Linked DNA regions of Homo sapiens. The protein of the gene in region 2 purifies or fractionates together with the protein of the main gene of each other region. This does not show direct contact. Each region holds a gene or a part of one and is shown on either strand. Other genes may lie near its edges.

Region 1 (3,822 bases), on a different chromosome or scaffold from region 2:
GGGAGATCTGTTTTTGATCATTTATTTGGATGTGTTTTAAGTTCTCAGTTTCAGTTACATGCATTAGTATTTTCCTTTGAGAGTTCTACCATTCTTTCATTTTGTTTTATTTTTTTTGAGACAGTGTCTTGCTCTGTCACCCAGACTGGAGTGCAATGGCATGATCTCAGCTCACTGCAGCCTCCACCTCCTGGGTTCAAGTGATTCCCTGCCTTAGACTCCCGAGTAGCTGGGATTACAGGCCCACGCTACCACACTTGGCTAATTATTAAATTTTTAGTAGAGATGGGGTTTCACCATGTTGGCCAGGCTGGTCTCGAACTCCTGACCTCAAGTGACTTGCCTGCCTTGGCCTCTCAAAGTGCTGGGATTACAGGTGCGAACCACCGTGCCTGCTCTTCCATTCTTTTTTAAGATGTAAAATTCCACCTTTTCCGGAAGTCTATTTATTTATTTATATTTTTTTTTTTAGTAGAGAAGGGGTTTTGCTATGTTGTCCAGGGTGGTCTCAAACTCCTGGGCTTAAGCAATTCTCCTTCCTTAGTCTCCCAAATTGTTGGGATTACAGGCATGAGCTACCATGCCTGGTCTTATTTTTCTTTAAACATAAAAAAATTATTTGTATCTAATTTTCGTCCATCTGCAGTTTCTTTTAGTGTATGTGTGGTGAATAACCAAACAAATGTTTTGCCCAGTGACTGTAGCTAACACACTGTCCCAATACCATTTGCAAGTAATTATTTCCTTCTAAACTGATTTGTGGGAGCCCTTTAAAAATATACTCTGAAGACCTACTTTTCAATTCCCTACAAGTCATACAACAGAGCAAACTGTGAAGGCTAGAGACATACTCACAAGTATATATACATGTAAATATAAAATGTTAGGACATTATATATATATTAAACTATATGCCCAGAAAGATTACATTATCTGTGCATTTTATTTCTAGGTTGCCAAAGAGTTCAAAATATTTGTTACAAAGAAGGGGTACTAGGTGTGTGATTGTTAAAAAGAAGGAACACTATGGTTGTGAATCAGTGACATAATGAAACACAATAATAAATTTCCAAATACTGAACTCTCTTCTCACTATGAAATTTACCTTGCTTGGGTATGGTGTATTATTCTCTCACTGTATTGATGACTTAGGTTACTTTTTAATTAAGCTGTTTTTTTAAATTGCTAATACAGGGATTCTGATACTCTGAGAGTGGGGTCCCTGCTCCCATTCTCTGTGGCCACTGATCAGCACTGCTCTATCAGTGATCCTCCAACCTGGCTATACATAAGAATCCCATGAGTGTGTGGATATGTATATAAATAATTTCAGCCCTGCAGATTCTGGTTGTGTTATATTTAGAGTAAAAAAGTTAAATGCACACGGAGGCTGTGACAGTACTGTCCTTTCCCGTGTGGCCCAAAGTCAAGACGAGTCAATCCAACCAGTGCCTCTTCCTATCACTTGCTACAGCTGCTTTTCATCTAACTTCAAGATCTCCTACTCTGCGGGCTTTCCCAAAGCAGCCCAATTCCCTACTCTAGCTGAGACTGAAATCTTTCCGGCTTCCACACTGCCGATCTTTTGCTGACTTGGGAATGCATGCAAATATTGATGCACATCCGTGAGCATTCCAGGCAGATGGGCCTCGATCTCTTAGATCACCTCTGACAGGAAAAAACTCTGCATGTGAAAGACATGTGAATGACTGATCTGGAGAACAGGCTCTGCAATGACACAGTGTCCTCAAGGTGCGACAATATACCTATGTGTCTGAGGAGGAAGGGAAAAGATGTGAAGTTAGGAAAGAGTAAACAGAACGGAGTAAGAATGAATGATAGTCAACACTGACCATATTTAAGATTGCTAGAAACTAGTCTGTAATACTGATTCTAACAAATATGCTTAAATTAGCTGCCCCAAATAGCAATTTCTCTGAGTCCAAACTACCATTTATGATAAGGGCGCTTCCCTGAGGGTGGGTGGTGAATCAACTGTATGGCCATGGATCTTAAGGGCAGGAATTCTGGCAATGACTCTCTTGCATAACCACGCTAAACTCAAATACTAGAGACACGACCCAATCAACTCAGCTGGGTTTTATTCCAATGTACATATATTTCAAGTGACATGGATAATTAATGAACCTGAGATAAATCGGTCCCCTCCACCCAGACTGATTTCCAGAGTACTAATATCCAAAAAGGGACAAGTGAAGAAAAAAAACTCTCCTTAAACTAGACCTAAGTCTCTGGAGAGACTCATACATGAGACGAACAGTGCAGTTTCGTTACCTGCCTAGCTTTTCCTATAATTATAAAATCTTTCAAACTGAAATTGGATTTAAATATAATTATACTCTTTGTTAACATTTCAGAATTTCTCATCATTTTCAATTTATATAAAATACTTAACTTTCAGAGGTAAAAACAGATGTCAAATACTCTGCTCTTCATATCACATTATTGATATTTCTGGAAATCAAAAATTTCTGGAGGATTTTGACACAATGTATATCTATTCTCATGTATCAACAGTTGCCAGATTGGTATTTCTGGAAATCAAAAATTTCTGGAGGATTTTGACACAATGTATATCTATTCTCATGTATCAACAGTTGCCAGATACTTCAACCAAGTTGCTATATAAAATCCCACATGATCATTTCAATGTAACAACTCTGCAGGGAAAACCACAGCCACACTTAACATTCAACTACAGAAACATGGGGAGGTGGAGATACATGGAACCCAGGCATCCTCTTAAGATGCTGTCAGTGTGGAACTCTAGTCTGGTCAATCCCTTCAGTGGTTACACGCTGCATCCTATCCCTCCACCCCCACCCCCGTTAGGCTCTAATGTACACGGTCGGTAGAGGAGGGCTGGGAGGCACCCTCATCCACCATATCACAGGTTAAAGTACTACACAGTTCCACGAAATGCCAAAAGAGTACTACCTGGCTCCCCCATCCCTCCCCCTGCCCCAATAAGGTGGCAGTTTTGAGTAGGGGTGAGTTCAAGATAAATTCAGGCAAACTCACTACACAATCCTCAAATCAGCTCTTCAACTGAGACTTCTGACTGTTGGCTTTTGAGTAATTGTATCTTTTTTCCAATGGCAAATTTATGTTTATAACAGAAGAAAAAAATTATTTTTTTGCATTTTTTTGTAAAGTGTCTACTAGGTAACTCAAGTTATTAGTTCTCTTCACTCACAGCAACTAAATGGTTGTAACATCAAAAGATCAGTCTAAGTAGGACCTAAAGCCCTAGCTTTGCATTAATCATCATGATAAAGTGTATTCAATAAGCTTTGTGAAAATATAAATCACAACTGAAAAATAAATGAGCCATACTACTTTCAGTTTCAGTCATACCTCATATAATTTAAAAATTATGATAGCCTTTCATATTCAATCTTTGCTCAGACTGACATAAATACACTTGAACTAGAAGCTGTGTTTTTTCCCATGGTGTCCTAAGAAATAAAATGGCACATGGATAAGGCCGTAGCTGGGCTCAGGACGCAGTGAAGAATGTGGCGTTTTGGTGGGGATGGCAGCAGTGGTAGAAAGTAGGTGGAAATCACGAAATCCAGCAAACAGATGTCATGAGAAGTAGATTTTCTCCAACATCAGCTGGGACCTCCATGATGTTCCAGAAGTCTTGTTTCATCAACTACTTACCCTACAGCCTTCCACCTACGCTATTCTAAACCTTCACCAGTCTCCTCACCCAGCCAGCTGACCCTGCTTCTGACCTCAGTGGGCTACTGAGACTTGGGATTCCTTAACTTTTTGATCTAACCAGTCACTTTCCAG
Region 2 (3,822 bases):
GGATGAGAAGAGAAGGAGAGGGATGGGAAGCTTGGGTCGTACTTCAGGGTTAAGGATCCCAGCCAAAGGGCTTTCCTAGAAAGACTCTCTGGTCCGTCACCGCTTTTGTCAATCTTCAGTGTTACATGTTCTTCATCTTTTTTTCCTTGTAAAGTAATGATCGGCAGGTACTTCTAATTTGCCTGCAGAATATGTATTCTAGACTCTTTCATATATGAATATTTCTAACAGAAGCAAAATCTGTTAATTATTCTTTATCTTAGTACTAAGCATCTTTATTAGCTAGCACTCAAGAGCTAAACCTTTAAAAAAGTAAGAGGCCAGGCACAGTGTCTCACGCCTATAATCCCACAACTATGGGAGACTGAAGCAGGAATTGCTTGAGGCTAGGAGTCAGAGACCAGCATGGGCAACATAGCAAGACTCTGTCTCTACAGAAAACTTAAAAAATTAGCTGGGTGTGGTGACACATACCTGTAGCCCCTGCTTCTCAGGAGAATCCCTTGTGCCCAGGAGTTTGAGGCTGCAGTGAGTCATGATCGTGCCACTGCACTCCATCCTGGGTGGTAAAGCAAGAACCTATCTCTTAGAAAAAAAAAAAAAAAAAGCCAAAAAATTAATTTGAAAACACAGGTGTTTGTATGAGGGAGTACTTACTCGTGTGCTTCTGCTTGTTCACCAAACTATAAATGATATCAGCAGTTTCCAAACATAGAGTGACACAGGTTGTGAATGGTGATGGAGATTTTTTCAATTGTGGCATTTTAATGTTCTCAGAACCACAAAGATCAGGCAGTGTGATGTAAGAAAAAGCATTTGATTGAAATCAGGAATTGAGGTTCAGGCCCACTTCTACCACTTTCTTGCTACCACTATGGTTGTGTCTTAGGTCTCTGAGTCTCAACTTCCAGTTTTATAAAATGAGGATAATAGCCCCCATTACTTCACAGGGTTATTACAAGAATCAAATGCACTAAAGCATGTGAAACTGCAGTAGGCTGAAATATGTACCATGCAACTAGGTATACTGACAAATGGGCAAGCAGGTAGCCCAGAGAGGTTAAGTAGTTTGCCCAAGGTTACAGAGCTAGGTTGATTTCTTTTTTTTTCTTTTTCTTTTTCTTTTTTTTTGAGATGGAGTCTTGCTCTGTCTCCCAGGCTGGAGTACAGTGGCGCGATCTCGGCTCACTGCAAGCTCCACCTTCCAGGTTCACGCCATTCTCCTGCCTCAGCCTCCTGAGTAGCTGGGACTACAGGCGCCCGCCACCACGCCTGGCTAATTTTTTTTTTTTTTTAATTTTTAGTAGAGATGGGGTTTCACTGTGTTCACCAGGATGGTCTCGATCTCCTGACCTTGTGATCCGCCCGCCTCAGCCTCCCAAAGTGCTGGGATTACAGGCGTGAGCCACCGTGCCCGGCCTAGATTCATTTCTTAAATGGCTTGAACCCCCATAGTAGTTCTTCCTTATTCTCTCTAGCTGGTTAGAAAAAAAGCGGGGAGGGGAGGGAAGTGCCCTGAACTGGAGTCAAAGTAGCAGATGATAGACAAGCTTTCCCTAAAAACTCTCCTCCTCAAGAAGTAAGATGAACACTGGGATCTTCTACCAACAGGTTTGCACCCCTAGCCACCTCGATGTTAACAGGTTCTGTTCCGTGCCCCAGCCCTTTTGCTTTGTTTTGTTTTAGTCTCAGCAAGCTACTTACAGGCTTCTTTAAGTGGTGTAAAAAGCAAGGGAATTCAAAGCTGTAAAAACTTGAGCCTTGTTTAACCCTCTGCCATGATGAAGGACTTAACAAGGGTCTCCTATGGTGAGCTCACTCCAGCTCACGGGTGGTTGCAGAAAGGGGAATGTTAAGAGTGTTGTGATGCTAAAGCCTCTCAACTTTCTCAGGCCTAAGAGACCCCTAATGGAACTCAGATATCTGATTTCAGTCATTTAATAGCCCTTGAGATGGTGAAAAGACTGTAATGGAAGCTAAGTAGGGTGGTAGTACTTCCATGCCAGCCAGCTCAGTTCCATACCAGAACTTGGGCTAGTGGAGATTTGACTTCAGAAATGTAGATATTTGGCCTTTAGAAGACTAGTTTGTCTTCCTTTAAGGAGAAGAATATGGAAGATTTGTCTTTAGAAATGTAGATGTTTGGCTTTTAAAAGAATAAATGGTTTGTCTTCCTTTAAAAATAGGCTTTTAAAGACACAAGTAAGTTTTAATTTGAGTGTAATTGTAAGGAGGCCACTTTCTAGTTCGTTGGAAAATATGTGTTCAGAAGACAATGTAGTATCAGTTTTTGTCTGATTTTTCAAGTGTTGGTTTCCCTTTTGGTTGAACAGCAGATCTTTCTCGTATATGTGTAATTCTAAAGGATTGTACAGAAAATTAAGGGAGATCTAAATACTTAGATTTTTAAAGTTTATCTGGTGAACTCTGATTTTGGTGATGATAATAAATGACTGCATTGAGGATAATGCATTTCATTGTTATATCCTAATGAAGCTTTAGGGTCATCTTCGCCTCAGAATATTTTGGGGGAGGTTGTTTTGAGAAGATAACTTCTTCAGCTAAAAATGAAAAGTCACCAAATTTTCCTGAAAGTAGACTAGCTCAGTATGACCACAGAGCATTTAAAGAACCATCCAAAGGACAGTGGGGGCTGTGAGGGGATCTAGTTTCTGGTTTAGGATTTCCATTTTTGCTTAGAATCCATTGTTCTTTCAGCAGCCAGGAGCACATGCAACCTGAAGTGTATTTTTTACTTTAAAACTTAACTGTGACTGTCACTTCATTGAAGACTCTCCTAAATTCACAGAACGAGGCTGAGGTCAGACTCTGACACCCTGCTTCTCTCAAATTAACTGTCCCAGCTTCCCAAGAGTTGCTCTCTAATAACTTTCTTGGTTTAACTTCTTAGTGTTTCTCCAGACTGAATTCCTGGCTTGCTCACAGAAGAAGGTCATGTGATGCTGAATCTGAGCCGCCTTGTGTTAATGGAGCGGTCTGCTCAGTTGACAGGCAGTCTTGCTGGGGAGCTGCAGCAAGATGCTTCTCTGGCGGGCTGGGTGTTTCACACGTCATTCATTTTAGACCACGTGTAGAATTCTTTGACCCTTAGGTCTATCTGGAAAAGAAAAAATAGCCATACTTTTTTGGAGGGCTGGCTGCTGGGTCGTGAAGGGCACTGTGTTCTCTCAGGTGTTCATAAAGCTTGGTGCATGTGCTTACAGTTGGTGGCAGAGATGGTCATGAGCTGGTGTGGTGCTGCAAGCTCGAGCTTCCGGTAAGCCTTCTTGAGTTCGACATGTGTCCTCTCTGAGGGAAACCAGCTTCAGTCTCACCTTAATTTGATATCAAAGATGCCTGCATTCACAAACTTTCATTCATCTTCATCTTTTGACATTTGGAGACACCATTAGGGAGCAGCCCAATATTTAGTTTAAAGTACTTTACATAAAGACTGGGAAGCATCCACCAGCAAAAGCCCAGATGGAGAGGGGAGGGGTGGTTCACTTCTTGTCTCTGCCACATCACTCAATCTTGTAGAATATTAGGTTTCTCATTTGTCAAAAGAAGACAGCCTCATCAAGTTTTAAAGGTGCATAGTATGTATAATTTTAAACTTGAAGACCGGGCGCAGTGGCTCACGCTTGTAATCCCAGCACTTTGGGAGGCCGAGACGGGTGGATCATGAGGTCAGGAGATCGAGACGGTGAAACCCCGTCTCTACTAAAAATACAAAAAAATTAGCCGGGCGTGGTGGCGGGCGCCTGTAGTCCCAGCTACTCGGAGAGGCTGAGGCAGGAGAATGGCGTGAACCCAGGAGGC

Evidence for each region.
Region 1: the proteins of FOXO3 (region 2) and TAF5L purify together in Homo sapiens (affinity purification with mass spectrometry; one large-scale study listed by BioGRID and IntAct). This does not show direct contact.

Annotation. Positions count from the first base shown.
Region 1 is NC_000001.11:229,615,916-229,619,737, forward strand, and holds part of TAF5L (TAF5-like RNA polymerase II p300/CBP-associated factor-associated factor 65 kDa subunit 5L), read right to left. Parts: intron 1-3,822. UniProt on the Homo sapiens protein: Functions as a component of the PCAF complex. The PCAF complex is capable of efficiently acetylating histones in a nucleosomal context. The PCAF complex could be considered as the human version of the yeast SAGA complex.
Region 2 is NC_000006.12:108,665,223-108,669,044, forward strand, and holds part of FOXO3 (forkhead box protein O3), read left to right. Parts: intron 1-3,822. UniProt on the Homo sapiens protein: Transcriptional activator that recognizes and binds to the DNA sequence 5'-[AG]TAAA[TC]A-3' and regulates different processes, such as apoptosis and autophagy.